7 separate regions of the Homo sapiens genome follow, and all the other regions are linked to region 5. Evidence: fine-mapped expression QTL. A gene starts in region 5. Each other region holds a variant in brackets. All regions are shown on one strand. Distances are between the middles of the regions.

Region 1 (4,068 bases), 41 kb after region 5:
AAAATTTGCCCTATATATGTATGTGCATTTATGCTCTATATAGGTTTAAAAAAAAAAAAAAAACGGGGGCACATGTTAAAGTAATAATTGTGATTACCGAAAGGAGATAGGGCAAGGCACTGAGTACAGAGAACTGTTAACTTTATATATGCCTGTACAACTTTCTAAAAGTTTATTACAATGAATATATATTGTTTTATAATTAAAATTAACCTTACATATGATATATACATTTTAGAGATTAAAAACTAGTTTTTAAAATGAAAAGTTTTACATGCCACGATTACCTAAATCATCTTCAATGCATTTTTTACATATACTTCTAGTTCAAAGTATGTCCCTCATCGATGAAGTTAAACTATTTCCCCTTCAAAACTGGCAAATGAAGCACTGAATTACTTTAGTAAAAGATAATTAAAGCAAAGATAATTGTCGTTTTAGCTTTCTAAATATTTATTACTAAAGATATTAAAAATACGTATTTTTAAGACCTTAAAATATATGTAGAAAAAATACCAAGAATTCTTGGACTGACATGAGGAGTTGACCTTAATTTCCTAGCCTACGTTTGTGTTTTATGTTTAGGGTGTGTTCTGTATTTGGATGTGGAGTTATTTTAGATTTCAACACGGTCTTGAAGAAAGTCTTCCTTCAGACTATTTATAAGGCAGAGATTAAGTCCTGGAAATTATTTAAGTATCTTATTTCTGCTTTTAGGTTAAATGTAACTTCCTACCTCAGCTCTATTTCTCTTCCTGAAATTAGCTTTTCGTCATTAGGGGAAAGGAGTCCACGTTGGTTGGGGAGCCTGCGCGCCAGCATCCCGGCGCATCCCGGGCGCCGGCCGAGGAGGACCGGCCGAACAGGACCCACGGCCCCCGGGGAGCGCCGGCGCCCAGCCCGCGGCGCGGAGGGGCCGAGCCTGCGCCCGCCTCCCCCGCTGGTTGGTCGAGGAAGCCAGAAATCAGCGCGAGGACAGCCTCGCTCTCCTCCCCGAAGCGGCCAGGCATGGCCAGCCCGGAGAGTGCGGCGACTCCACCGTGAGCTCTCGAGAGTGCCTGCCTGCCTTTCGCCGGGGGCAGGCGGGCGGCGGGGCAAGAGGAGGCGCCGTGCGCCGGGGTCGCTGGCCCAATTCTCGACTCGGGGTAAGATGGCTCCGCTCCGAACTCGCCGGCGCGACCACACGCACAGCCTCTCCCTTCCCAGCCTCCGTGCTCGGGCCCGGAGGGTCGCGGAGGCTGTTGGCGGCGCGGAGCCAGCCCGGCGCGACCTCAGGCGGCGCAGCGGGAGCGAGTGCGGGTCTCCGAGCTGCCCGCCCGCAGACAAAGCTGACAACATGGCTACCTCCGCTCCTCCGCTCAAACAAGTTCCTCGCAAGTTGAGCCCGGCAGGCGCCTGGGCTGCGGCGGAAAGCCGCGCGCGCCTCGGCGGCCGTCGTCCATCAACTTCAAGTTTCCCTCCGCAGAGCAGCCCGCGGCCGCCAGGCGCCGAACACAGCCGCCCAGCGCGAGGCCCGGCCCGGGAAACTTTCAACGTCTGCAGCCCGCAACTGACAGCCCGGGCGCACGGGCGCCGCACTCACCTTCAGACAGGTCCTCGATGCACTCGAAGGTGATCTCGAACTGGAACGGGTTGTAGAAAGGAGAAGGGTTATCCAGCACCACTACATTGTTCACCTGAACCTTTGCCATATTTTGAAAAAAACACAAACAATGGGAACTGGGGCTGGTTGCGGCACAATAAAGTCCAGCGCGCGGCCGCTCGGGAGAGCGCAGACCCCCGCTCCAGCGCCGGCCAGACGTCGTGCAGCGGCGACTTGAGAAACTTTTTTCCTCTTTTTATTTACACGGGAGCACTCCACAGTGTTTTGCAGCTTTCCTATTTCACTAAACTACAGCCCATTCTGCTCTGATAAGTAGCAGCGTTGCCCTCGATTGGCTGCACCCGAGTTCTGACCCTCCTCCTCCAGCGAGGGCCTCGGCAGCCAGCAAGATGGGCTCCCGCTCCCGGAATGGACTCGGAAACTTTAACTGCGGCTCCACCTGCTGGTG[T/C]GGATTAGGACAAAGGCGGAGAACAAAGTGAGTGGAATAAGGGCTGGGAGGCCCGCGCGGAGGCCGCCGGCGGCGGCGCGGAGAGGGGCGGAGGGGGCGTGGCCGCGGCGGGGAGGCGTGGCTGCGGCGGGAGGGCGCGATCCGGCCGACGCCCGCCCCTCCAGTTGGCTTCGTGTGGGTGTTTTGGCGTTTTTTTGTTTTTTTTTTTGTTTTTTTGGTTTTTTGATTTAACGCTCTTTTTACATCAGTGCAACAGCTTTGCCGGCCTTGCTGAATTTAGCAGATGAGAGTCGGTGTTTACACTGGGTTAGGTTCAGCTTTCTGCGTATCGGGTAGTATTTGGAGTAGAGAGAAAGATTGGCTGCAGGGGAAATAAATTGCATGTTATAGACCGATGTCAGCTCGAAAGGAGCAAAGCCATTTTGGAAATCTAGCTCTTGGCCAGTATCTACGTTTAGGCACGACAGCGCCGTTAAGCAACACAAAATGAAGGGCGAGGAATGATTTTCTACACACTGTGCTTGGAAAATTTAAATAGGTAACCTTTGGGCTTGCACCTGGGCGTCTTCTTCGGAGTCCAGATCTGGGAAGTCCTAGAATAAAAAAAAATCACAAGAGGTGTGATCAGTTATACTTCAGGTTACTGCCATTTGGAGAGCATAGCAGGAACATAAAAGGAGAAAATGGAAGTGTTAGGAGACCAACAGGGCAACAAACGTAATAGAGATGGGAAAAAGAACACAAAGACATAGCAAGACATTTGATCTTCAAAAAAATTTCTGACCTAAACCGTTAGTAAAGCAAATTCTGAGGAGCCCTTGCTTGCCTGTAACCAGTTGAGGTCTGAACTGAGGAAATGTTGATTCGTTTATGCTGCTTGGCTACCATTGCGGGGAAAGAGAAAGCTTTAACATATTTGTGAGCCTAAACCGTTTCTATTTAGTAAGTGGTATAAAGGTTTGTTTTATTATCTGCTAGCCATAAACCATCATTTTTTTCCTTAAATGTTGTGAATGAAACCACCAAACTTGGCCAAATTCAGAGAGAAAATTAATTCTTAAGTATGTGTTCTGGAAGAGTTTTCTCTTAGTATAGTGCCCAGAATTTTGATTTGTCATTCTTTGGTCATTGTTCATACTTAAGTAGGTGGCTTTTGATGAAACGTTTTCATCTGATGGTCTTTTGAAAGTTAATGTGAGACAGCTAATGTCAACCCCTCGTACATTTAGGAAAACCGGTTAGAGTGGGGAAGAGTTCCCTTTTTTTGTCAGTGGATTGAACAGTTAGATATAGGACCTACCAAAAAACACTTCTTCAAGCCAGTTGTTTGTGACATTAGAGTATTAAGAGTCAAACCATGGTGATAGACACAGATTTTTGTGGCTGATAAACAACATACTCTTCATTCTTATTAGTGCTGGTCCTAACACTAGCAGATAAAGTGGAAATTGCTGTATGCTGTAAGACACTCTGTATATGTAAGATAAAATGACCATTTGAAGATTAAAACTCCTGTGAGACTGGTGTATGCAGTTGTCTGATTATTACAGGTACTCTTAAGAGGAGAGTCTAGTCAGTCTCATGAAAACGACATTTTATGCTTGTTAAAATCACGTGCATTTTGCAGTCTGACCGTAAGTGTTACAATGAGACTAGTTGTAAAACTCACTTTTGGTGGATGTGCAGCATGAAGGACTGAGAAGATCTACCTGAATGCCACTAATTTGGCTTATTTTCTTTAAAATTTTTTGTTTAACACATCATATGCAACAGTATTTAAGAAGAAAAAACTCCCCAACATTTCACTGGAAGCTGCAAGAATTAGCTCCAGGCTTCTCCTGTCTTAACTCTTGTATTATTGCTTGTCAGAAATACTAAAGGGTCGTTGAGCACTTTGTTCAATAGTTTCCTCACCATTGATACTACCTTACTCCAGGAGAGACCGAAAGGATTCCTCAGATATGTCCTGGCATATTTCTAATTTAACTGGTATGCTGTAGGAAAAAAAGAATTGTGA
Region 2 (4,068 bases), 150 kb before region 5:
AAAAAAAATCTGGAATGGGTGGAAATCTGAGTGGGACCTGATGAATATCAGTTATGGCCCTTTGAGCAGTTGCAGCAAGGGACATTTGCTTGCTACACTAAGTCTCATCTGGAGTCCTTTTAACAATCAGAAGCTAGCTATGACCTTAAAGAGTTGGTGACAGAATGAATTTCATATAGAGCAAAAATGGATCTGAAAGGTAAGGGATAGATTGTAGGAGATACTTTTGATGTCTTGTGCCACTTCTTTTGATTTCAGCTGCAAAGGTGTTGGACAGTTCCTATGCATGCCACAGTTTTCCCTCAAGCACCTGCTGGATCTCTCTGCCTTCCTGACTCCCACTCTCTCCAAAGCCACAGGAGTTCACTAAGCTCACATTGAATAACCAGACACACAGAGATGTTAATTCCCCTGGCAGCCATCCTCGATCAGTGAGTGAAAGGAGACAGCAGATAAATGTGTTAGCCTTTCGTCTTTGCTAGAGAAAATTCTGAGATTCATTTTACAAGATTCTTCAGAGATTGAGTCCCAATTGACCAAAGTGGTAACCAACTCAACAATGTGTCCTTCAATGGCTTTTCCTTATCTCTCTCATATTCTTGCTTTTCAAGATCACCTATCAAGTAAACTTATTCAGTCCCTGCTTGCAAAGGAAGCCAAGTAGATGGATAAACCAGTTGGCTTCTGGTTGATTGTGATATTCATAGAAAGGGTTGGCTGTGTTGTTAGAGAAAAAGCTAATGATAGTGTTGGTTGAGAAAATGAAGTTAACTAAAAATTGGAAATAAACATTTATTGTGCATGTATTATGTATCAAACATTTTAGAAGGTTTTCAATATCATTATCAGTTGATGATAGAGATGAGTTTTCTGAATTCATGGGGAAGAAACAAAAATAAGGAAAAAAGAGAAAGAAGCACATAGCAAGAAACCAACAAATCATAGTCAAACTCTTTTATAACGATGTTTACCAATATGCAGCCATCTAGATTAACCACTTATCTAAAGAAACAAGAACCACCTTATTTAGGCTTATTTTGTGTACCATGCTTTGGGTGTGTTAGGAGGTGGAAGTGAGAGTTGGAGCATGATTGATATGTGGTATATCCATACAAATACAACAAAATTCTGTTCTAAAAATATGAAATAATGGCTGGGCATGGTGGCTCACACCTGTAATCCCAGTGCTTTGGGAGGTTGAGGCAAGAGGATTACTCGAGACCAGGAGTTCAGGACCAGCCTGGGCAATGTAGCAAGATCCCATCTCTACAAGAATTAAAAAGTATATATTCCCAGCATTTTGGGAGGCCAAGTCAGGCAGATCATTTGACGTCAGGAGTTTGAGACCAGTTGAAACCCGTCTCTACGAAAATACAAAAAAAAATAGCCAGGTGTGGTGGCAGATGCCTGTAATCCCAGCTACTTGGGAGGCTATGACAGGAGAATCGCTTGAACCTGGGAGGTGGAGGTTGCAGTGAGCCAAGATCAAGCCACTGCACTCCAGCCTCGGTGACAGAGTGAGACTCTGTCTCAAAAAAATAAAAAAATAAATAAATAAATAAATAAA[G/TAAAG]AGAGAGAGATAATTAAAAAAAAAAAATAGGTGTTAGCTATTTGGGAGGCCGAGGGTGGGAAGATTGCTTGAGCCCAAGAGTTCCTGCCTGGGTGACAGAGAAAGATCCTGTCTAAAATAAATAAATAATAGAAAATATTAAATAATTCAACATGTAACATGAGAGAGATATAAGAAATACTCAAGATCATTTAGTCCAATCTCCTCATTTTACAAATGAAGAAAAGAGGTGGCTTAGTGGCAACATGAGACCCAGAATACCAACCAAGATTCTGATTCTCTTTTCATTATACATGGAAACTTGCACCAAGAGAAGAGTTGTCATTTAGAAAATGTTTAACTCAAAATGTTTTCCTTATTTGTGTGAAGTCTTACAAAAAGCTAGTATGATTATTGATTCCATTGGAGTTCAGTTGCTTGTACACAGTCTATAGTGATTCTGAGTCCCTTATACCTTGCTCTATGGCCTTAGATTGAGTCCCATTCAAATACTGAATGTTCCTAAGAGGCATAACATTGAGATGCAAATAAAAGACCTGAAAAGTACCTTTGAGATCACCTGGCCAACCCCGAAGAAGTTTTTGTAGATCTTTAGTACAGGTGCTTTTGTAGATATTTAGTATCATTTTCCATTGACTGCCTAACTTGGTCTCTATGATTCTTCTGGCCAAAATGGGAAGAAAGAATAGAAAAAAGAAGAAAGAAGAACATTTCCTCTACCTCTTTCTTTCAAATCTTATATTTAGACGTCCTCTTTAGCTAACCATGACCTTGGATAGGAAATGTCTATTTCATCTCCATGAGGAAAGCAGTGAATAAATGTTTATTGATTGATAGAACAGCATTCTCTGATTGTCTGTTCACTGGAATGCACTTCCCATAAGTAGCAAGAGTACTTTTCATCGATGAATCTTTTCTTAATTGTGGCAAAATATAAATAACATAAAATTTAGCATTTTAACCATTTTTAAGTGTATATTTAGTGCATTAAGTAGATGCACACTGTTGTACAACCATCACCACCATTCATTTCTGGACCTTTTTCATCTTCCCCAGTTGAAACCCTATACCCATTAAACAATAATTCTCCATTCCCTTCTCCTTCTAGCCCCTGGAAACCACCATTCTACTTTCTGTCTCTATGAATTTGAGTGTTCTAGCTACTTCATATAAGTAAAACATCATATGGTATTTGTCCTTTTGTAACTGGCTTATTTCACTTAATGTAATATCTTTAAGTTTCATTTATGGACCATGTGTCATTCTTTTTAAGATTGAATAACATTCTGTTGTATATACCACATTCTGTATATCCATATTTATCCATCAATACACATTTGGGCTGCTTCCATCTTTTGGCTTCTGTGAATAATGCTGCTGTGACAATCGGTGTACAAATTATCTTTTCAAGTCTTTGCTTTCAATTATTTTGGGTATATACTTAGAGGTGAAATTTCTGAATCATACAGTAATTCTGTCAATTTTCTGAGGAACCAGCATACTGTTTTCCACAGTGGCTGTACCATTTCACATTTCAACCAGCAATTTCAACCACAGGGATCCCAATTTCTCCATGTACCACTTGTTATTTTTCTGTTTGGGTTTGTTTTGTTTTTTTGATAGCAGCCATTCTAATGGGTGTGAAGTGGTATCTCATTGTGGCTTTGATTTGCATTTATAATTAGTGATGTTTTGACCATCTTTTTATGTGTTTATTAGCCATCTGTATATCTTCTTTAGAAAAATAACAATTCAAGTCCTTTGTCCATATTTTAATTGGGTTATTTGCTTTTTGTGTTGAGTTTTAGAAATTCTTTATATGCTCTGGATATTAATCCTTTATCAGAAGCATGGTCTGCAAATGTTTTCTCATATTTCATGGGCTACCTTTTCACTCTCTTGTTAGTATCTTTTGACGCATAAAAGTTTTTATCTTGATGAAGTTCAAATTATCTGTTTTTTCTTTTGCTGCCTATGCTTTTGGTCCATTAACTGTTGAGCTCACATCTCAATCCTAATTTTAATTCTTAACCTTAACTGCTACTGCCTGGGGTTAATCTAGGTTTTCTGGGGCCTGAAACATACACAATTTGGGAAGGCCTAAAAAATACAAAGAATGTTATTTTTGTAAATTTTACTTAATTTTATAACCATGTATCGTGTGCTAGGAGCCTCCCCTCCTTGGAAAAAATCAGGCAAACTTGACAGCTCTCTGTTCCTCAGCCTCAATGTCCTGTCTGTTTTACCTTATGGATATTTCACATCCATCCTTTTTTGTTCCTACTCTCACTGCCTTATTTTAGGTCAGTGGTTCATCATCTCTCACCAGAATAAGTGCAATAGCCTGCTAACTAGTCTCCTTGTTTATAGAGTTGTCCCATAATCGATTTTCCACAGTCAAAAAATGATGTAACTAAAATGAAAATACGATTATTTCATGTTCCTGCTTAAAGCCCTCCAATGGCTCGTGATTGTCTTCGGGACAGAGACCCAATCCTCTT
Region 3 (4,068 bases), 74 kb before region 5:
CAAAAATGACAAACCTGAGGACAGAGAAGGCTGTTTGAACATGATATCAAAGTTGTGAATTGAAACATGGAATATTTGTACAGTTAAAGCTAAAACTTCTTTATATCAAAACACACCATAAGCAAAATTTAAAAAGAGGAAAAACTGGGAGAGATGAAGAGACTGACAAATTGACCAATGAAGAGTTCATGTCTTTAACACTTTTAAGAGTATTTACAAAACAATAAGAAAAATACAGACACCCAGATTATCTTTTTACAAGCTAAAAATAAGCAGGAAAAAATAATTTGTATAATTTAAGAACTGGAAATGAAATCAATGAGATGCCATTCCATCACCATAAAATTAACAATGATAAAAAAATTGAGACCATGCAGTGTTAATAACGATAAAGAAATAAGCACTCAGAAACTGCTGATGGGGATTCAAAATTGTATAATTTTCCTCGAAAGGGATTTATCAGCACATATGAAAGCCTTAAAGACAGGCATGTCCTTTAACTCAACAGTTTCATTTTTTTGTGTATTTAACCTAAGCAGATAACTACGGATTGTTGACAAAATTTCAGCACTGTTTATAGTAGAAGAAGTATAGAAAAACTTAAATTTTCTCTGAAGTCTGCTGCCTGGAAGAAAGGGAGTCTTCTCCCAGTTCACACAAGTTTTGTTTGCTTCTCTTTCCATGTTCTGGGGCTGCTTCCACACTGAGGGGTATTGCCTTTTTCCTGCTTAGAGGCACACATGGCCTAGCAGCTGCCTTGGTACAATACAAGGTCAAGAAAGTGAAGGCATTTAGGGTCCTTCTAGGAGTTAAATACTTTCATTCTGAGATGTTAAAGAGATTTTATTCTTAATTGCTAGTAAGTATATACGAAGTTTTTCTGTAAGTGACTCATTCATTTATTTAATAAATATGGAATGCCTATTAGGTACCAAAGCACTGTTACACACTGCGGTTTCAGTGATAAGTCAGTCAGACATGGTCCCTACTACTATGGACAGACAGACACAAAAACAAGTAAACACAAGTCTGAGGCATATTACAAAGGGTGGTAAGTAATTAACAAGGGCTCGTCAAAATAATAAATTTAGGAAAGCTTATGCAAACGCTCTGAGGCATGAGAAATTTCTAGGAATTGTAAGAATACCAGTGGTATTAGTCTGTTTCATGCTGCTGATAAAGACATACCTAAGACTGGTTAATTTACAAAAGAAAGAGGTTTAATTGGACTCACAGTTCCACATGGCTAGGGAGGCCTCACGAACATGGTGGAAGACAAGGAGGAGCAAGTCACATCTTACATGGATGGCAGCAGGCAAAGAGAGAGCTTGTGCAGAGAAACTCCCATTTTTTAAAAACCATCAGATCTCATGAGACTCATTCACTATCACAAGAACAGCGCAGGAAAGACCCACCCCATAATTCAGTCACCTCCTACTGGGTTCCTCCCTCAACATATGGGAATTGTGGGAGTTACAATTCAAGATGAGATTTGGGTGGGGACACAGCCAAACCATATCACCAGAAAAAACGGAGTGTGATAGCAACTATAATAATATTTATTTAGTGCTTACTGAGTCCCAGACTTTGTTTTATATAGCCTCTTTATACTGTTCTCTCCTTTAATCCTCACAGCAACCCTGTGCAGTAGGTACCAGTTACTAAAGCATAGAAAAGTTAAAATAACTTGCCCAAGTCAGCACATAATAAGTAGGTAAAGCCAGAATTCCATTTCAGGTAGTGTGCTTTCAGAACTCAATTCTTAACCCTACTCTTTCTCTCAATTAGTATATAAAGACCAAGAAGAAGGGATGCCATGCTGAGGTTGGAGATTTCAGCAGGGGCTATGTTGTGGAGGTCTTGTAAGCCCCATGAAAGATTTTGAAAGTTATCCTAAGGGCAGTGAAAAACAGTTGAAAGATGATAAGTATAAATATGTGGATGCTTGTGCAGTGGATGGGGCTTATGCTCGTGTCCATATTTGTAATTTATAAAAAACTCACTGTAGTGTTGCAAGGAGAGTGGATTAGAGAAGAACAAATAGAGGTAGACGGATATTTCAGGGAGGAGGTTTCTACTTACTGTATTCCCTCAGTTTGTACATTAATATGGAGAATCTGAGTATTTATTTCTATTGCAAATGACAGAAATCCTACCTCAAACTAGCCTAAAGAAAAAAAAATTTATTGACTCATGTGACTGTAAAGTCCAAGGATAATGTTAGCATCAGGCAAGACTAGATTCAGAACTGAAATTGTGACAATGGAACCCAGCTTTTCTTTTTCTCTTAAATTGGGTTTGTTCTTGTGTTGACTTCATGCTTCAATCACATATTCCCTGAGGTATACGTGGAGCTGGCAAAAAACCTTTTCT[G/A]GGAGCTCCTTTTAAAGTCCTGAGATCACTGTGACTAGATAAGCTTAAACCATGTGCCTGCCCCTGAACCAATCCACATACAAACAAAATGAGATGACCTTATTGGTTTACGTTTCAATGAAGCACTTCATTCTGGAGTTTAAGTTGAGCGCTTACTAAGACCACATGGACCGATAGAGAAGGCGAGTAGATGCCCCAAATGCCATAAGGAGATTTTGTTATTGGGAGACAATAGGTGTTTTCCCCATGTATCCATTTTTATTGTATTTAAGAAAACAAACTGATCAGTTATGTTCAACACTTATTTGCTTTTTATATTTTATTACATTTAACTTTGCAGAAGTTTGAAGTTTTTGCCTATTTAAATATTCTATCTCTAGATTTGTAATTGCCTTAATAGACCTTCTCTTTGAATTCTTTACATTGTTACTAGAATACTGTTTTTTTTTTTTCTTGAGGCAGAGTCTTGCTCTGTTGCCAGGCTGGAATGCAGTGGCACAATCTCGCTCACTGCAACCTCTGCCTCCCAGGTGCAAGCAATTCCCCTGCCTCAGCCTCTCAGGTAGCTGGGATTACAGTCGCGCGCCACCACACCCGGCTACTTTTTGTATTTTTAGTAGAGACGGGGTTTCGCCATGTTGGCCAGGCTGGTCTTGAACTCCTGACCTCAGGTGATCAGCCTGCCTCGGCCTCCCAAAGTGCTGGGATTACAGGCATAAGCCACCGCGCCCAGCCCTAGAATACTATTCTTTATAATTTATTTAATGGAAGAATTTTACCAAACTTTTAAAAAACAGGTAATTCTTTTGCTGTGAAAATATTTCAGAGCACAGAAAAGATGTGTAGCTCCCCTAATTATCTTATGAGATTAGCATTCCTTTAGAGACACCACCAAGATAAAATACTACCACCACCAGTATTGCAGAGCATATACCTGCATAGAGAGGGGACAGGAAGGCCGTGCACTTGGGGAGGGAATTGTGGGTCAGAGAAGGATTGAAGGAGAATTTTTGTATTTTTTTTTTGTAATGTCTGTATTTACAAGGAAAAATAGGTATTATTTTTAAATTACCAATTTCAACTTTTGTAGAAATTTCATAGGCTTGGCCATTTTATAAGAATGCGGTTTTTACTTTATAGCATTGTCCTAAATAATTTGAAATATTTCATGTATGTATTTTAGTATTCATAACTTTATGGTAGGGATATGCTTAATCAGCAATTATCTATTAGCTTCTAATTTCGAGTGTATAAATTCAACTCTTAAAGATTTAATGAGAAATTTTGTATGGAAACACAGGAATCATAACTTACTCTAGTTTATAATACATTTACCAGCTTATCAATATTGACCTAAATTTATCCCCTTTGCAAATAGCAGGAGATATGGACTCAAATGAAATATGTGATTAAATTTTAAAGGATGGTTTTTAAGATATTTTTATCTAAAATTTTGTTTTACTCTTTTATATAATCTTTATCTTGCTTCAGCTTCTTATAGGTATTTTATTATATGGTGGAACTAGGAATTCTCTTTGTTAAACAAAGGTATATCTATTCCTTTACATGGTTGTCATGAAAAAAGAAGATCTTAAATGTGAAAGTCTTTTCAAAACACAGCAGAAGAAAGCTGTCATGGTTATTTGAGTGCTTTTTCCAAATTAATCAGGAAATCATCCATTCAGTAAAATTACA
Region 4 (4,068 bases), 43 kb before region 5:
ATGGCTCACTGCAGTCTCGACTTCCTAGACTCGTGATTTTTCCACCTCAGCCTCCTGAATAGCTGGGACTATAGGCGCACACCACCATGCCTGGCTAATTTTTTAATTTTTTTTTTTTTGTAGAAACAGGGTCTCGCTATGTTGCCCAGGCTGGTCTTGAATTCTGGGGCTCAAGCAATCCTTCCACCTTGTCCTCCCAAACTGCTGGGATTACAAGGGTGAGCCACTGTGCCCAGCCTGTTCAATATATAGACAAAATACATTGAATCAAATTGGTTTCATGATGATTTCTTTATTCTACTGAAATGACCCTAATTATTTTTTCTAATGTTGATTATCTTATGTCTAGTTTTCTTGAAAATGAACCTAAAACATTTTGTATTTCTTAAATAATAACTGAGTTTTAGTAACTGTTTTCTATTTTGTTTGCATTTTCCTTCCTATATTCTAGCATAATAATTTGAATTTGTCTTGTTCTAGGCTCTTGAAAATCATTTACAACAGAAGCATTCTGCAGAGCTTCAATCACTAAAAGATGCACACAGAGAGTCAATGGAGGGCTTCCGGATAGAAATGGAACAGGAACTTCAGACTCTTCGGTTTGAATTAGAAGATGAAGGAAAGGCTATGCTTGGTATTTTGAAAAGATTACAATCTTGTCATATTCATATGTACATTTTTAACATTTTTTAAATTCAACATAAAATCACCAAGTTTTATTTTAAAATTTTGAAACGTCAAAATGAATATCTAAGTGTACTGCATATTTTATTTGAAGTTACCACATGAATAGGCAGGACACAAACAGTAAAGTGAATTCCCCTCAGCTCTCTCTGTACTCCAGCTATGCAAGCAACACCACTGGTACTCTAATCTGTCCTTTTTGGACTAAGTGGACTCAGGACATTGAGGTGTCCCAGAAATCAATCACTGCTCAGTAGAAAGGACATGGAGCCACATGTCCTTAGACTGCATGGTCATATGGTTTTTTACACTTCAAGATTTTGTTTTAATGGGAAAAGTCAGTATTAGGTCTGACTCTTCTGTTGAGGTATATATTTCTTTGAGATTTCTACCTATGAGGTGTTCACATCATTACTTTTTATAAGGAGGTAGGTTGAGTTTTGAAGAAAAACTGGATATGTATTTAAAGATTTGTTTTGGGTTTTGTTTTTTATGTCATTCAATAACTTTTTATTCTTACCATCTCATTTTCCTTCTGTTTGGCTTTATTCCAAATTATGCTAATATTTTTAACATGTTGTCATACTTCAGTGGCACACTCTTTCCAAGTAGGAATTTGGAGCAAAGAAGACTGAAGTGTTATCAATATTTTGGGCCTCAAAGGGAAAGCCGTCTGACCCTGTTTCTCATCGATAATGTTGCTGGGAGTCCCAGACCAAGTCGTTAAAGCTCTCCTCTTCCTCCTTTAAAACCCACTATGACTGCTAGCATGAAAATCAGATTAAATTTAGACATTTGTCAAAGATTTGTGAAAAGCCTTTTCATGTGCTAGAGATTGCTGAGCAAGGAGAATTAAAAAATGAACTACTGCCCTGTCTTTGCACAGGAATTGTAGT[G/C]AAATGTAGAGGTCGCCTTTATAGAAATGTGGCCAAAAGGGAATACACATTCCACAGCTTTGTCAGGGCAGGCAAAAACAGTCCCAGTGTTGGAACTATTGTTGTTTAGTCCATTGAAACATGCTCCACTAAACATGATTCAAATATGTCTTTGTTGGCCGGGTGTGGTGGCTCACACCTCTAATCCCAGTACTTTGGGAGGCTGAGGCAGGTGGATCACCTGAGGGCGGGATTTTGAGATCAGCCTGACCAACATGGTGAAACTGCATCTCTACTAAAAATACAGAATTAGCCAGGCGTGGTGGCGCATGCCTGTAATCCTAGCTACTTGGGAGGCTGAGGCGGGAGAATCGCTTGAATCTGGAAGGTCGAGTTTGCAGTGAGCCAAGATCACACCATTGCATTCCAGCCTGGGCAACAAGAGCAAAACTCTGTCTCAAAAAATAAATAAATAAATAAATAAAATATGTCTTTGTTGACAAAAAGAGTTTTGGGTCTTTAAAAAAACTTTTATTTTGAAATAATTGTAGATTCACATGCAGTTTTAAGAAATACTACAGAGATCTCTTTAACTAGTTCCTCCAGTGGTAACATCTTGCAGAACTATGGTACAGTATCACAACCAGTACAATGACGAAGATTCTGTCAAGATTCAGAACATTCCCATTACCATGAAGATGACTCATGTTGTTCATTTATTGCCACACCTATATTCCCAGTCCTCCCCTCCTATAACACCTGGCAACCATTACCCTGTTCATTTCTATGATTTTGTCAGGTTAAGAATGCTCTAATTTTATAAATGAAATCATACAATATTTAACCTTTTTGGGGAGAAGGGATAGGGTCTCACTCTGTTGCCCAGGTTAAGAATGCAGTGGTGTGCTATCAGCTCACTGCAACCTCCACCTCCCGGGTTCAAGCAATCCTCCTGCCTCAGCCTCCTAAGTAGCTGGGACTATAAGTGTGTGCTGCCACACCCAGCTAATTTTTGTAATTTTTGTAGGCAGGGTTTCACCATGTTGCCCAAGCTGGTCTCAAACTCCAGGCCTCAAGTGATCTACGGGTCTCGGCCTCCCAAAGTGCTGGGATTACAGGTGTGAACCACCACACCCAACAATATTTAACATGTAGAGGTTGGCCTTTTTTCACTCGGCATAATTATCTGAAGTCATCTAGGTTATTGTGTGTATCAACAGTTTGTTTCTTTTTATTGCCAAGTAGTATTCAGTGGTTTTGATCCACCGTAGTTTGTTGTCCTTTGCCCGTTAAAGATCACCTGAGCTTTTAGTTCTTAGCTGTTACAAATAAAGCTGCTATAAACATTCACGTACAAATTTCATATAAACATAAGTTTCATTTCTCTGGGATAAGTGCCTAGGAGTGCGGTTGCTGGGTCATATGGCAGCTGCATATGTAGTTTTGTAACAAACTGCCAAACATTTTCTAGAGTGATTGTACCATTTTCCATCCCTACTAGCATCATATAAATTTTGCTCACATCCTCACCAACATTTGATGTTGTCATTATATTTCATCCTTTCTGATAGGAATGTGTGATAACTCATTCTGGTTTTAATTTGCATTTTCCTAGTGGCTCATGATATTGAACATTTTTCAATATCATGAGAACATTGACCAGCCAGGCTCCTTTAGGGATATTTTTGAAGAATTCTTATTTGGGTGAGAAGTTGCCTCCTAAATATTTGTTATGGTACCATTAAACTCTAAAATTTCATTCTTTTTTTTTTTTTTGAGATGGAGTCTCACTCTGTTGCCCAGGCTGGAGTGCAATGGCGTGATCTCGGCTCATTGCAACCTCTGCCTCCCAGGTTCACGCAATTCTCCTGTGTCAGTCTTCTGAGTAGCTAAGATTACAGGAACCTACCACCATGCCTGGCTAATTTTTTGTATTTTTAGTAGAGACGGGGTTTCACCATGTTGATCAGGCTGGTCTCGAACTCCTGACCTCAGGTGATCCACCCACCTCGGCCTCCCAAAGTGCTGGGATTATAGGCATGAGCCCCCGTGCTTGACCAAATTTTATTATCCTAATAGTGAAAGAGACGAATTAAAAATACTTCATCTCCATTAGCACTTTACCTGCATACTGAAAGCATGTATAAAAATACCTTGATCCGCTTAAACATTTGAAATATTTTATATCCTCATCAAAGCTACATTAACTTTAAATTCATGATAGTATATTGTAGTCTGTAATATTTAAATTTGTCATAGTTTATAATCTATTAATTTAATGGACATACACAAGTGTTCTAATTTTTGAAATAATTTTTTACTTCTATAATTTTTATCTAAAGTATTGATAATATTTTTTAAATGTGCCAAATGTATTTTTGCCTTGCAATTCCAGCTTCCTTGCGCTCAGAACTCAACCATCAACATGCAGCTGCAATTGATTTGTTACGGCATAATCATCATCAAGAATTGGCAGCTGCTAAAATGGAATTAGAGAGAAGCATAGACA
Region 5 (4,068 bases):
CCTAGTTGGGGGTGTCTGGGTCACAGGGGCAGATCCTTCAGGAAAACTTAGTGCTGCCATTGCATAATGAGTTCTCATTCTGTTAGTTGCCTCCAGAGCTGATTGTTAAAAAGAGCCTGACCACTACCTCCCCTTTCTCTTGCTTCTCTTCTGGCCATGTGATCTGCACAGGCAGCCTCCCCTTCACTGAGTGGAAGCAGCCTGAAGCCCTCACCAGAAGCAGCCTGCAGAAGTGTGAGCCAAATAAACCTCTTTTATTTGTAAATTATTCAGTCTCAGGCATTCCTTTTTAGCAACACAGACTAAGACACTATCAAAGAACAACTGAAAATTTAAAATGTCATTTACATAATATCAAGAAGTATATTTTTCCCCCATCCTTAGATTTATGGATAAATCTGACATAGGGTGATATGGTTTGGCTGTGTCCCTGCCCAAACCTCATCTTGAACTGTAGTTACCATAATCCCCAGGTGTTGTGGGAGGGACCCGGTGGGAGGTAACTGAATCATGGGGGTGGTTATTCCCATGCTGTTCTCTGATAGTGAGTGAGGTATCACAAGATCTGATGGTTTTCTAAGGGGCTTTTCCCTCCTTGCTCCTCACTTCTCCTTCCTGCAGCCCTGTGAAGAAGGAGGTTTGCTCCCGCTTCTGCCATGATTTTAAGTTTCCTGAAGTCTCCCCAGCCATGCTGAACTGTAAGTCAATTAAACGTCTTTCCTTTATAAATTACTCAGTCCCAGGTATGTCTTTATTAGCACTGTGAAAATGGACTATATAAGACTAGACCTGACAAAAGATCAAAACATTTGCTGAGTGAAATAACACCTAAATAAATGAAGAGGCTTACTTTAAGGGTCATTACTAAATATTGTTAACATGTAAATTATTCTTACATGGATCTATAGACGAAATGTAACCAATCACAATCCCAACTTTTTAAAGTGACAAGCTGATTTTAACATTCATATGAAAACCCAAGGGACTAGATGAGCCAGAACATTTTTGAAAAATAACAAAAAATTGGAGGCCAAACACGATCTGATTTTAAGACTCTTACGAATCTACAGGAATCAAGACAATGTGGTATTTTTGTAGAGAGAAATATAATAAATTGTCGGAACAGAATAGAAAGTCTAAGAATAGACCCACAACTGATGCTTTAGGGACAACTGATTTTAAACATAGGTGCAAAAGCTATTCAGTGAGAAAAAGAAAGCTCTCTAAACAAATGACACTATTCACATACAAAAAAATGACCTAAGATCCATACTTTGCACCACAGACAAAAATTAGCTCTAATTGGATCACAGACCTCAATATAAAACCTAAAATTCTAAAACTTGTGTCAGAAAACACAGAAGAGATCCTCTGTGGCCTTGGGTTAGGCAAATTCCTTGGACAGACAAAAAACAAACCCTAAGATCCGATCTGAGCCGCCGCACAACCCTGCTCTGGCCACTTAGCCTGAGGTCACTGCTCGGGTCCCGCCCCTCTCCCCGCCCGGGACCCTCCTGGCTCCGCCCCAATCCGCCCGCTCCGCTCCACCCCGCCCCGCTGCCTCGTCTCCATCCGGAAGAGCCGCCGGGGCAGGGAAGTTGAGGCGGTGCGCGGCCCGGCGTCGGTCGAGAGCGCAGGCCCGGCAGAGCCGCAGGCGCTAGGCCGCCCGACACAGCCCGCGCGTCCCCGCGGCCGGTGGCGCCTCGAGCGGCCACGTGCACGCGCGCACTCCGCCTCACCAGCCTTCTTGCGCCGGAGACGAACCCGCTGCCTGGCTGGAGCTCTCTGGGCCCTTCGGCCTCGGGAGCAACGCGTTCCCGGCGACTTCTGACACAGCCAGTAAGTGATAGCCGCCTCCTCCTTTCGCGGTTATGTTTTTCTCCAGTTCGTCCCAAGTCTCGTTCCCGTCTCATTACTTCAAAAACTATTCAACTCCGGGACCGGACAGGCACGGGAGCTGCCCGGGAGAAGAGCCCCAGAAGTCTCAGAGACTGCCAAGGTGTTGTGGGGCAGGGGCTGCGTGCAAAGACCCTGTGAATTAGAAAGTTTGGAAAGCATGCCTCCAAAACCGAGCGACTCCACGTTTGCCAGGCGCCCCTGGGGCAGCCGAGCGGCCCGGAGGCGCGAAATGGCGCGCCCCCGCAGTGAGAGGGGCGGAGGGAGTGGGGCGGGGCCGAGGGCGCGCGTCCCGCCAGCCCGCGCGGAGGGGGCGGGGCTCCCGGCAGGTGCAGGCGGGCGGGGCGGGGCTGCCGCGATTCCCGGAGACAGCTGGGGGATGCCAGTGCAGTTAGGCACTCTCCTGTCTTCTTTTCGACGCTTCGCTGTGGTCAAGAGGACAAAGTAAAGCAAATGATTTTATTTTGACCCCAAATATTCAATAAGAAAAGGAAAGAGAACTTGAAAGTTGTGAAATGACCCTTCTCAAAACAAAAAGTCCCTCCAGTGTCTATCTGGGTGGGTAGTAGGTACGTTTATTGATTTAGCAAACTGCTGATAACACAGTTGATTAGTCAGTTTTGCATAGATGTTGAAAGGGAATGAATAACGATGGTCCATATAACCATAGAAATGCTAGCCTAACTAGGCAAAATTTAATCTGACCTTAATTTGAACGTTGAATTCTGCTGCTGCCCTTTTCCTGCCTTGTGTGGAGCTGTTTTTCAAATTGCTAAATTTGTGGCTCTAAACTTAATATGCTTTAATAGAATCATAGTGATTCTCTTGTAGCCACTGTTGGGAGTCCAGATTTTTTTTTTTTTTTTTTTGGGCAAAGTCCACATTGTGGAGATATTCCTTCCCAAGTGCTTTTTCTGCTTTACACTTGGCTGAATTTATATTGCTTAACCAAAAACAAATTACCGTGGAGGCCGTAATTTATTTCCACTCATTGTTTTGGATATACATTTACTCATTCTTACTCTCACTCTGGCCTCCTATAGTGGTCAGGATTCTTGACCTAACTGCTATATGTACTTCTTAAACGTTTCACACCTTGCGGAATAGTAGGTTCTCAGAGAAAGCAAAATATAGCAAATAGCGTGTATAACACGTACTTAGGATGATAAACTGTGAACTTTATAGCAGTCTCCTTTAATATTCGTATTTGTAGAGTCCAGTACAATAAATGTTGGACAAATGAAGTAAGTCAAATTTAAGTACACCTCTTCTCCAGTCCTCAATCTCTTTCCAAACGAAATAAGTGTTTCTCTCTTTTTTTTTTTTTTTGAGGCGGAGTCTCGCTCTGTGCCCGGGCTGGAGTGCAGTGGCGTGGTCTCGGCTCACTGCAAGCTCCGCCTCCCGGGTTCACGCCATTCTCCTGCCTCAGCCTCCTGAGTAGCTGGGACTTCAGGCACCTGCCACCACGCCCAGCTAATTTTTTTTGTATTTTTTTTTAGTAGAGAACGGGATTTCACCGTGTTAGCCAGGATGGTCTCGATCTCCTGACCTCGTGATCCACCTGCCTCGGCCTCCCAAAGTGCTGGGATTACAGGCGTGAGCCACTGCGCCCGGCCCCAAATAAGTGTTTCTTATTTGGACAGCTGGTTTCTAACTGTCCAGTGCTACTTCTGAGATCGTCACCTCATTTAAATTTAACCTCCCTCTCCTTTGACTCCTATTCATATTGCATTTTTGACCACTGGTAGTGCACTGTTTCGTTTTATTTGCCCCTTGGATTTCTGAGGACATAGAGAACCTTTTACTATACTTTTCATTTGCCAGCATAGTGCCTTGTACATGATAGATATTAGGAAATGGACATTGAATTGGGTTTATACATATGTAATTTGTTATCCGTCTGTATACATGAAACTAGAATGGGGATAGGTGCTTTTTATCTGTAGATACATACTTTTTAATAGAGTGCCAGGGGAATGAGATAAAGTAATGGTATATGCTGTATTTATTTTCAATAATACTTTTTTATTATTTGAAGACTCAGTGTTTTTTCACCTTCCTATGTTTATCTGTTTTCTTTGCATTGTTGACAGCTGTTTCTGCAGAACCCAGTAGATTTCCTACGGTAAGAAAGAGAAAGAAGGAAACAAATTCACTTCCAAGTATGAATTT
Region 6 (4,068 bases), 50 kb before region 5:
TATAACATTATAGTCATTGAGGATCACCTTTTTACTCTGTCATCATCCACAGCAAAACATGACTTTGTCAGAGTGCCGTGCTCTGCAGGATGAGCACCTGCCCACTCCCTCTGTACATGGTGTGTACCCCAGCTTTCCATACAAGAATTCAGTGCTTAGCACATTCAAAAACAAGTGACTGTTATTGATACATCTGTCCTTCATAGATAACTTTCTAATTAGTTTTAGTTAATAATAAGAGGATGATTGGGGACATATTCCACAAATTTTTTTTTTTTTCGGAGACGGAGTCTCGCTCTGTCGCCCAGGCTGGAGTGCAGTGGCGCAATCTCGGCTCACTGCAAGCTCTGCCTCCCGGGTTCACACCATTCTCCTGCCTCAGCCTCCCAAGTAGCTGGGACTACAGGCGCCCGCTGCCACACCCGGCTAATTTTTTGTATATTTAGTAGAGACGGGGTTTCACCGTGTTAGCCAGGATGGTCTCGATCTCCTGACCTCGTGATCCGCCCGCTTCGGCCTCCCAAAGTGCTGGGATTACAGGCATGAGCCACCGCGCCAGGCCAAATTTACTTTTCTTAACTAGCCTCCTCAGTAATAGCACATTAGTGATTAAAGAAGAAAAATAAATCATATAATTAAAATATTTGAGCACCTTTAAACATTTTACATGACCATTTTCGTTAAGTCATTGGCATAATAATAAGTTATTCCTACTGTCCTCTACTAAGCCTAGGTTAGCAGTTTTTTTCCTGAGATCTGCTCAGACTGATAGGCTAGCAGTTTTTAATGTTTTATATATTTGAAAGGATTGGAGTTAATACTTTAGAATTAGATTACTTTCTTGTCCCAGTCATAATTCATCTGTAGGTGCTACGAGAGGGGCTTACCTTCCAGGGATTTCCATTTAATCCCTGAATAAACCCAGGCAGCCAACTGGGAAGAAAGGAAGGAGGGAGAACAGCTGTTGTAGAAGTGAGGGACAGTGCCAGCCCTAGGAAGTCTATGTGGTTATTAAAAGGAATGGGTCATATCTGAATATCGTGAGTACCTTATAAATGCCACTTTGAAGGGAAGGAAAAAACTACAAAAACACAAACTGGCTGGCCCCTCTACTGGAAAAATTATTAAACATCATTAAATCCCTTGGCGTACTCATCTTGGAAGATATATAAAGTTGAGTGTGTGAAAACCACCTCATCCACATCTGCAGGTCAGGACACTCTCATGGTTTCACATTTGAAGTGGTGTTTGTTTCTCTATGTGATACTTACAGGATGTCTGTCCCCATCAGCTGCCCCAGGTGTCTCTGTTTCAGCTGCTATGGACATTAAGCACTGATCTTTTGAGGTGTGCCCTGGAGCCTTTGTAACTTTTGTATATAAGGCATAGCCAGCATTTTATCAGATATATCTCTACATTTGGTAAAATCATCTAGCCATTTACACATGATCTAGGTAAGAAAGCAAAAGAAAACAAAACGGTGAATTATATCAAGAGAGACCTAAGCCATTACAGTCTGCAGTAAGGCATACCAAAATATTAACACCAGTTACCCTTAGGGATTAAGTGAGGAAAGGGAATGAAGGAGACTTTTCCTTTTATTTATATGTTCCTGTATTTTTAAAATTTTCATAACGAACCACTTTTTACTTTGATAAATAGGAATAAAAATATCTTAGGCAGCCTGGGCCCAATTCCAGACCTGCTAAATCAGAATCTCAAGGGATCAGGGCACAGGCAACTGTCTTTATGAAAATCTGCAGAGATGATTCTGATACACAGCCAGGTTTGAGAATCACAGATTACGTTTACTATCTCAAGACATGCTTTATTTGGAGAACACATCATTTGTATACTTTCTGTATTCTTTCACTTTTGTAACAAGGCTCAATGGTTTTTGAAGAAAAAACACCGATATTGCATCAAAAACCAAAGGTTGTAGGTAAGATGTAGATAATTAATGACATGTCTCATATTGACATTCTGTCATACCCAGTACCTCAGATTTGATGTTTCACTTTTTGTTTTGAGAGAGTTCTTCCACAAACACCATTATAGAGGTACAGAGTCTTTGTGAAACTGGTCTGTAAAAAGTAGGCTGGGCACAGTGGCTCATGCCTGTAATCCCAGCACTTTTAGACACTGAGGCAGGAGGATCGCTTGAGCCCAGGAGTTCAAGACCAGCCTGGGCAGTGGAGTGATACCTCATCTCTAGAAATAATATAAAATCAGTTGGTGCATGTCTGCGGTCCCAGCTACTTAGGAGGCTGAGGTGGGAGAATCACTTGAGCCCAGGTGGTTGAGGCTGCAGTGAGCCATATATATAAATATATATAAATATAAATATACAAATATATATAAATATAAATATATATAAATATAAATATATATATAAATATATATATATATATATATTTTTTTTTT[A/TTA]AATGGAGTTTCGTTATCATTGCCCAGGTTGGAGTGTAGTGCTGCGATCTCGGCTCACTGCAACCTCTGCCTCCCGGGTTCAAGTGATTCTCCTGCCTCAGCCTCCCGAGTAGCTGGGATTACAGGCGCCCGCCACCACTCCCGGCTAATTTTTTGTATTTTTAGTAGAGACAGGGTTTCATCATGTTGGCCAGGCCGGTCTCAAATGCCTGACCTCTGGTGATCCACCCGTCTCGGCCTCCTAAAATGCAGGGATTACAGGCATGAGCAACCGTGCCCGGCCCATATATTTTTAATTTTTTCTTTTTGAAATTTTTATAAAACTTTAATATTCCATTTTCAAAAAGACTGTAAAACTTTATTTTCAAAAAGACAATCATTTTTTAAATGGTAGAGACAGGAGGTGGCAATTACTATCAGTGCAGTTTGACCTTTAAAATTGTCTCTAAAATGTCTGGCACCTATCAACCAGTAGAATATATTTCATATCTAAATTGCTATGCTAAGAATTTAAAAACTAAAGATTAAATTATTTTCTGAAATAAAATATTTTGGTTTATTTAAACAAAATAAGAAATAGAATTTTTTAAATTTTAACGAATGTATAGAAACTAATACCGTGCACTACATAATTTGAATATAATATATAGTTTGAAGCAACTACTTGTTCTCATTCTTTATTCAACACAAGCCTTTCTAGATATTCTATAATTCTGTAATAAAAATACTTACCAAAATTGCCTAAACCTTTTAAAGCAGAGGTTTTTTATCTTTTGAGTTAAAGTTTTACATTAATATGTATTTCTATTGATTATATTAAACTCAGCTGTTTAAATTATAGCTATAAAAATTAATTCACTTTACATTACTTTGCTCATTGTCTTTTAAAGTGCCATGTACTTTTCATGCTGAATAAAAGCTATTTATTGCAATTCTGCTAACTTGTTTTTAAAAAGAACAAAATAAATTTTGATATTGCATTGCATGATTAAGGCTTTCTGCATATAATTCACATTACTGTCTTGAGCATGAATTCAAAGATTTTCGATGGCCTTAATATTATTTTGATGTGCTTTCAAAGTTAAGAATACAAAATATCTAAGTATGTTTGAACACTAAATTGCATGATCATATCTTTCTGCACATAGTTTATATTATTTTCTTGAGTGTAGATACAAAGATTAATCACATATCCTAAGATGGAAAGTACTATTTTGGAGTTCTTTCAAGGTAAAGTATATTACAATGTAAAATATTTAAGTGTATTTTATTTTAGCTGGAGAAATTTAAAACTCTGTAGATTTTAAATATGTAACTATTATGCACTGTGGTACTTCCAGTCATTCACTTTAAATATTGCATTTCTTCATAAGTTTCATCTGTTAATAGGTCAAACGTGAGTCAAATTAACGTATGAGAGGTCTGTCGATTCAGCAAATTTTGAAGTAGGTATTGCAGAAAATAAGAAACACCACTGTGAGCTGATTGGTTTCCTACTAATTGAAGTACACACTAAATTTGAGGATGGGATCCAGGGCCACTGCTAGCCTATATGGCACCTTTGTGCAAAGCAGAAAAACATGTCCATTCTTTTTGGATGGACACAGATCTGTACCAGGGCAGACAGCTTGGTGAGCAGAATGC
Region 7 (4,068 bases), 60 kb after region 5:
TTCTTAACATTGTAGAAGAACAAACATTTTTAACTTCAGCGAGGATCAACTTATAATTTTTCTTTGAGTACTGTGCCTTTGATGTCATATGTAAGAAATCTTTGCCCAACTCAGGGTCACAACAGTTTTTGCTTATTAATTAATAAAATTTGTTTTTTAGAGTAGTTTTAGGTTTACAACAAAGCTGAACAGAAACTATAGTTCCTATATTCTCCCTCCCTGCCATGCATACAACCTTCTCTAGTGTCAGCTAGTTTCAGAGTGGTACATTCATTACAACCGATAAACCAACAATGACACATCATTGCTACCCAAATTCTATTATTTACATTAGGATTCACTCAGTGTTGTACATTCCATGGGCTTTGGCAAATGTATAATGACACATATCCACCATTATGGTATTGTACAAAATAGTTTTACTGCCCCCAAATCCTCTGTGATCTGCCTGTTCATCCCTCATCCCTCTTTCCCTTCAACCCCTGGCAACCACTGATCTTTTAAATATCTCCATAGCTTTACTTTTTCGAGAATGTAATATAGTTGGAATCATACAGTATGTAGTATTTTCAGATTGGCCTCTTTTACTTACTAACATATGCTATTAAGGTTACTCCATGTCTTTTCATGCTCTGATAGCTCATTTGTGTTTAACAATGAATGATATTTTATTGTCTGATGTATTACAGTTTATCCATTTACCTACTGAAGGACAAGATGGTTGCCCCCAAGTTTCGGCAATTATGAATAAAGCTTCTGTAAACACCTGTGAGCAGGTTTTTATGTGCATATAACTTTCCAGTGCCTTATGTAAACACCATGGAGCACAGCTGCTGGGTTGTATGGTAACGATCTGTTTGCTTTTGTTAGAAACTGCCAAATTGTCTTCCAAAGTGGCTGTCCATTTTGCATTCCCAGAAGCAATAAATGACAATTCCTGTTGCTCCACATCCTCACCATCACTTGGTGTTGTCAGTTCTTTGGATTACAGTCATTCTAAGATGTGTAAAGATGTCATTATTATTATTATTATTATTATTTTAATTATTATTATTATTTTTTTGAGACAGGGTCTCACTCTGTTGCCCAGGCTGGAGTGCAGTGGTATGAACATGGCTCACTGCAGCCTTGACCTCCTGGGCTCAAGTGATGCTCCCACCTCAGTCTCTTGAGTAGCTGGGACCATAGACACATGCCACCATGCCTGGCTAGTTTTGGGTATTTTGTAGAGACAGGGTCTCCCTGTGTTTCTGGGCTACTATTGAAACACATATTGCTCAAGCAATATGCCTGCTTTGGCTTCCCAAAATGCTAGGATTACAGATGTGAGCCACTGCGCCCAGCTTTTGCTGGAAGTTTGATTAGCTTGGGTTGAATCTGTAGAACAAGTTAAGAAGAACTGACATCTTGACAATATGAAGTCTTCCTATTCATGAAAATGGAATATCTTTTCATTTATGTAGTTCTTCTTTGATAACATCAGACTTTTCCTCTTGTAAATCTTGTAGGTATTTCATTCATTTATACCCATTTCATTTTGAGGGGGACTAATGTAAATGGTAATTTTGTTTGTTTGTTTGTTTTTGAAACGGAGTTTCACTCTTGTCACCCAGGCTGGAGTGCAATGGCGCGATCTTGGCTCACTGCAACCTCTGCCTCCTGGGTTCAAGCGATTCTCCTGTCTCAGCCTCCCAAGAAGCTGGGATTACAGGTGCCTGCCACCATGCCCAGCTGGTTTTGTATTTTTAATAGAAACGGGGTTTCACTATGTTGGCCAGGCTGGTCTCGAACTCCTGACCTCAGGTGATCCACCCGCCTCAGCCTCCCAGAGTGCTGGGATTACAGGCGTGAGCCACTGTGCCCGGCCAATGGTAATAGGTAATGTATTTTTAATTTCAAATCACCTTGTTCATTCTTGATATATAGGAAAGCAATTGACTTTTACATATTAACCTGCAACCTTGCTATAATCACTTATTAGTTCCATGAGTATTTTTTTCTCAGTTTGTTCAGACATCCTACATAGATGATTATATTATCTGCGAACAAAGAGCATTTTATTTTTTCCTTCCCAGT[C/T]GGTATACTTTTTGTTCCTTTTCTCATCTTATTGTATTAGCTAAGACTTGGAGTACAAAGTTGAAAAGCAGTGATGAGAAAGGACATCTTTACCTTGTTCCTGATTTTGGTGGGAAAGCTTCAAGTTTCTTACCATTACCTTTGATGTTAGCTGCAGATTTTTTGTAGAGAGTCTTTATAAAGTTGAGGAAGTTGCTCCTCTATTCTTAGTTTTCTGAGAGTTTTTTGTGTTGTTGTTTAATCATGAGTGGCTGTCGGATTTTGTCAGATGCTTTTTCTGCATCTATTGATATTGTGATTTTTCTTTGTTAGGCCGTTTTATCAACGGCCTGATGATTATATTAATTGATTTTTTATTTTATTTTTTTGAGACAGGGTCTCATTCTGTTGTGCAGGCTGGAGTGCAGTGACTCAGTCTTGGCTCGCTGCAACCTCTGCCTTCCAGGTTCAAGTGATCCTCCCACCTCAGCCTCCTGAGTAGCTAGGACTACAGGCATGCACCACCATGCCCATCTAATTTTTGTATTTTTTGTAGAGATGGGGTTTCACCATGTTGCCCAGGCTGGTCTTTGAACTTCTGGGCTCAAGCAATCCGCCCACCTTTGCTCCCAAAATGCTGGGATTATAGGCATGAGCCACCACCCCCAGCCTTAATTGATTTTTTTAACGTGATTATACCTAGGATAAATCACACTTGTTCATGGTGTACAATTCTTTTTATGCATTGTGGACTAGATTTACTAATATTTTGTTAAAGATACTGGCATCTATGTTCATGAAAGATATGGACTGCAGTTTTCTTGTAATGTCTTTATCTGGTGTGGTATTAAGGTAATGTTGGCCTCATACAATGAGCTAGGAATCATTCCCTCTGCCTCTGTATTATGAAAGAGATTGTAGAGAATTCATGTCATTTCTTCCTTAAATATTTGGTAAAATTTACCAGTGAACCCATCTGGTCCTGGTGTTTTGTGTTTTGGAAGGTTATTAATTACTGATTCAACATCATTAGTAGATATAAGCCTATTCAGATTGCTTCTCCTGGTTGAAGTTTTGGCAGATTGCATTTTTTAAGAATTGGTCCATTTCATCCAGGTTATCAAGTTTATGGGCAGAGTTGTTTGTTTATATGTTCTTTATTATGCTGTAATGTTCGTGGGATCTGTAGTGAGGTTCTTTCATTTCTAATATTTGTAATTTATGTCTCTTCTATTTTTGTCTTCATTATCCTGTCCAGAGGCCGATGAATTTTATTGATCTTTTCTAAAAACCAGCTTTTGGTTTTGTTGATTGTCATTGCTTTCTGTGTAGACTTCCTTTCTTCTCTTCTCTTTTCTCTTCTTTTCTTTTCTTCCTCTTTTCCCCTTCCCTTTCCCCTTCCCTTTCCCTTTCCCCTTCCCTTTCCCTTTCCCTCCCCTCCCCTCCCCTCCTCTCCCCTCCCCTCCCTTCTTCCCTTCCTGTCTCACTGTGTTACCTAGGCTGGAGTTCAGTGGTGCAGTCACAGCTCATTGCAGTCTGCACCTCTCAGGCCCAAGTGGTCCTCTCACCTCAGCCTCCTGAGTAGCTGACACTACAGGTGTGTGCCACCATACCTGACTAATTTTTAAAATAATTTTGGTAGAGATGGTGTCTCACTTTGTTGCTCAGGCTGGTCTCTAACTTCCGAGCTCAAGAGATCCTCTCACCTCAGCTCTGCAAAATGCTGAGATTACAGGCGTGAATCATTCCACTTGGCCTCTGGTTTTCAATTTCACTGATTTCTCTTCTGATTAAATTTTTTTTTCTGCTTACTTTGTATTTCATTTGGCCTTCCTTTTTTTCCCTAAGATGAGAACTTAGATTATTGATTTTTGTATCTTCCTTCTTTTCTGGTGAATTCATTCAGTAGCACTAATGTCGCTCTAAGTGCTTTTGCTGTATCCTACAACTTTTGATAAGTTGTGTGTGTGTTTTTTTTTAGGTTTTTAAAATTATTTAAAAACTTTTTTTTCT

Direction of the effects. Alleles are on the strand shown, and positions count from the first base shown. SD is a standard deviation of normalised expression in the study named. Not every link is listed here.
For the expression in neutrophils of the gene that starts at base 1,571 in region 5, allele TAAAG in region 2 goes with a lower level than allele G (large effect, 1.0 SD a copy in BLUEPRINT).

The links.
Region 1: its variant is fine-mapped to the expression of MCM9 in whole blood (TOPMed, PIP above 0.99).
Region 2: its variant is fine-mapped to the expression of MCM9 in neutrophils (BLUEPRINT, PIP 0.95).
Region 3: its variant is fine-mapped to the expression of MCM9 in thyroid (GTEx, PIP above 0.99).
Region 4: its variant is fine-mapped to the expression of MCM9 in whole blood (INTERVAL, PIP above 0.99).
Region 6: its variant is fine-mapped to the expression of MCM9 in lymphoblastoid cells (TwinsUK, PIP 0.95).
Region 7: its variant is fine-mapped to the expression of MCM9 in whole blood (INTERVAL, PIP 0.93).

Annotation. Positions count from the first base shown.
Region 1 is chr6:118,892,037-118,896,104 of GRCh38, reverse strand. All of the region lies in intron 8 of MCM9 (minichromosome maintenance 9 homologous recombination repair factor), which reads left to right. It overlaps ASF1A (anti-silencing function 1A histone chaperone), which reads right to left and starts at 1,953. Exons shown (of 4, transcript NM_014034.3): 1 at 1,583-1,953. The coding sequence starts at 1,691. RefSeq lists silencers at 759-1,288, 2,079-2,218 and an enhancer at 1,669-1,758. The variant T/C (reference allele first, on the strand shown) is at 2,052.
Region 2 is chr6:119,086,686-119,090,753 of GRCh38, reverse strand. It overlaps a transcript of FAM184A not described here. Among named protein-coding and RNA genes, the nearest start is that of FAM184A, 10 kb to the right of the region's middle. RefSeq lists an enhancer at 61-562. The variant G/TAAAG (reference allele first, on the strand shown) is at 1,568.
Region 3 is chr6:119,006,699-119,010,766 of GRCh38, reverse strand. All of the region lies in intron 6 of FAM184A (family with sequence similarity 184 member A), which reads left to right. All of the region lies in intron 1 of LOC124901389 (a long non-coding RNA gene), which reads right to left. Among named protein-coding and RNA genes, the nearest start is that of MIR548B, 60 kb to the left of the region's middle. The variant G/A (reference allele first, on the strand shown) is at 2,374.
Region 4 is chr6:118,975,931-118,979,998 of GRCh38, reverse strand. It overlaps FAM184A (family with sequence similarity 184 member A), which reads left to right. Exons shown (of 18, transcript NM_024581.6): 11 at 481-634; 12 at 3,955-4,068. The region is part of intron 1 of LOC124901389 (a long non-coding RNA gene); the gene reads right to left. Among named protein-coding and RNA genes, the nearest start is that of MCM9, 43 kb to the right of the region's middle. The variant G/C (reference allele first, on the strand shown) is at 1,581.
Region 5 is chr6:118,932,662-118,936,729 of GRCh38, reverse strand. MCM9 (minichromosome maintenance 9 homologous recombination repair factor) reads left to right here and starts at 1,571. Exons shown (of 14, transcript NM_017696.3): 1 at 1,571-1,839; 2 at 3,990-4,068. It overlaps LOC124901389 (a long non-coding RNA gene), which reads right to left and starts at 1,815. Exons shown (of 2, transcript XR_007059729.1): 1 at 1,740-1,815. RefSeq lists silencers at 1,393-1,822, 2,073-2,322.
Region 6 is chr6:118,982,506-118,986,573 of GRCh38, reverse strand. All of the region lies in intron 9 of FAM184A (family with sequence similarity 184 member A), which reads left to right. All of the region lies in intron 1 of LOC124901389 (a long non-coding RNA gene), which reads right to left. Among named protein-coding and RNA genes, the nearest start is that of MCM9, 49 kb to the right of the region's middle. The variant A/TTA (reference allele first, on the strand shown) is at 2,425.
Region 7 is chr6:118,872,631-118,876,698 of GRCh38, reverse strand. The region is part of intron 8 of MCM9 (minichromosome maintenance 9 homologous recombination repair factor); the gene reads left to right. Among named protein-coding and RNA genes, the nearest start is that of ASF1A, 19 kb to the left of the region's middle. The variant C/T (reference allele first, on the strand shown) is at 2,077.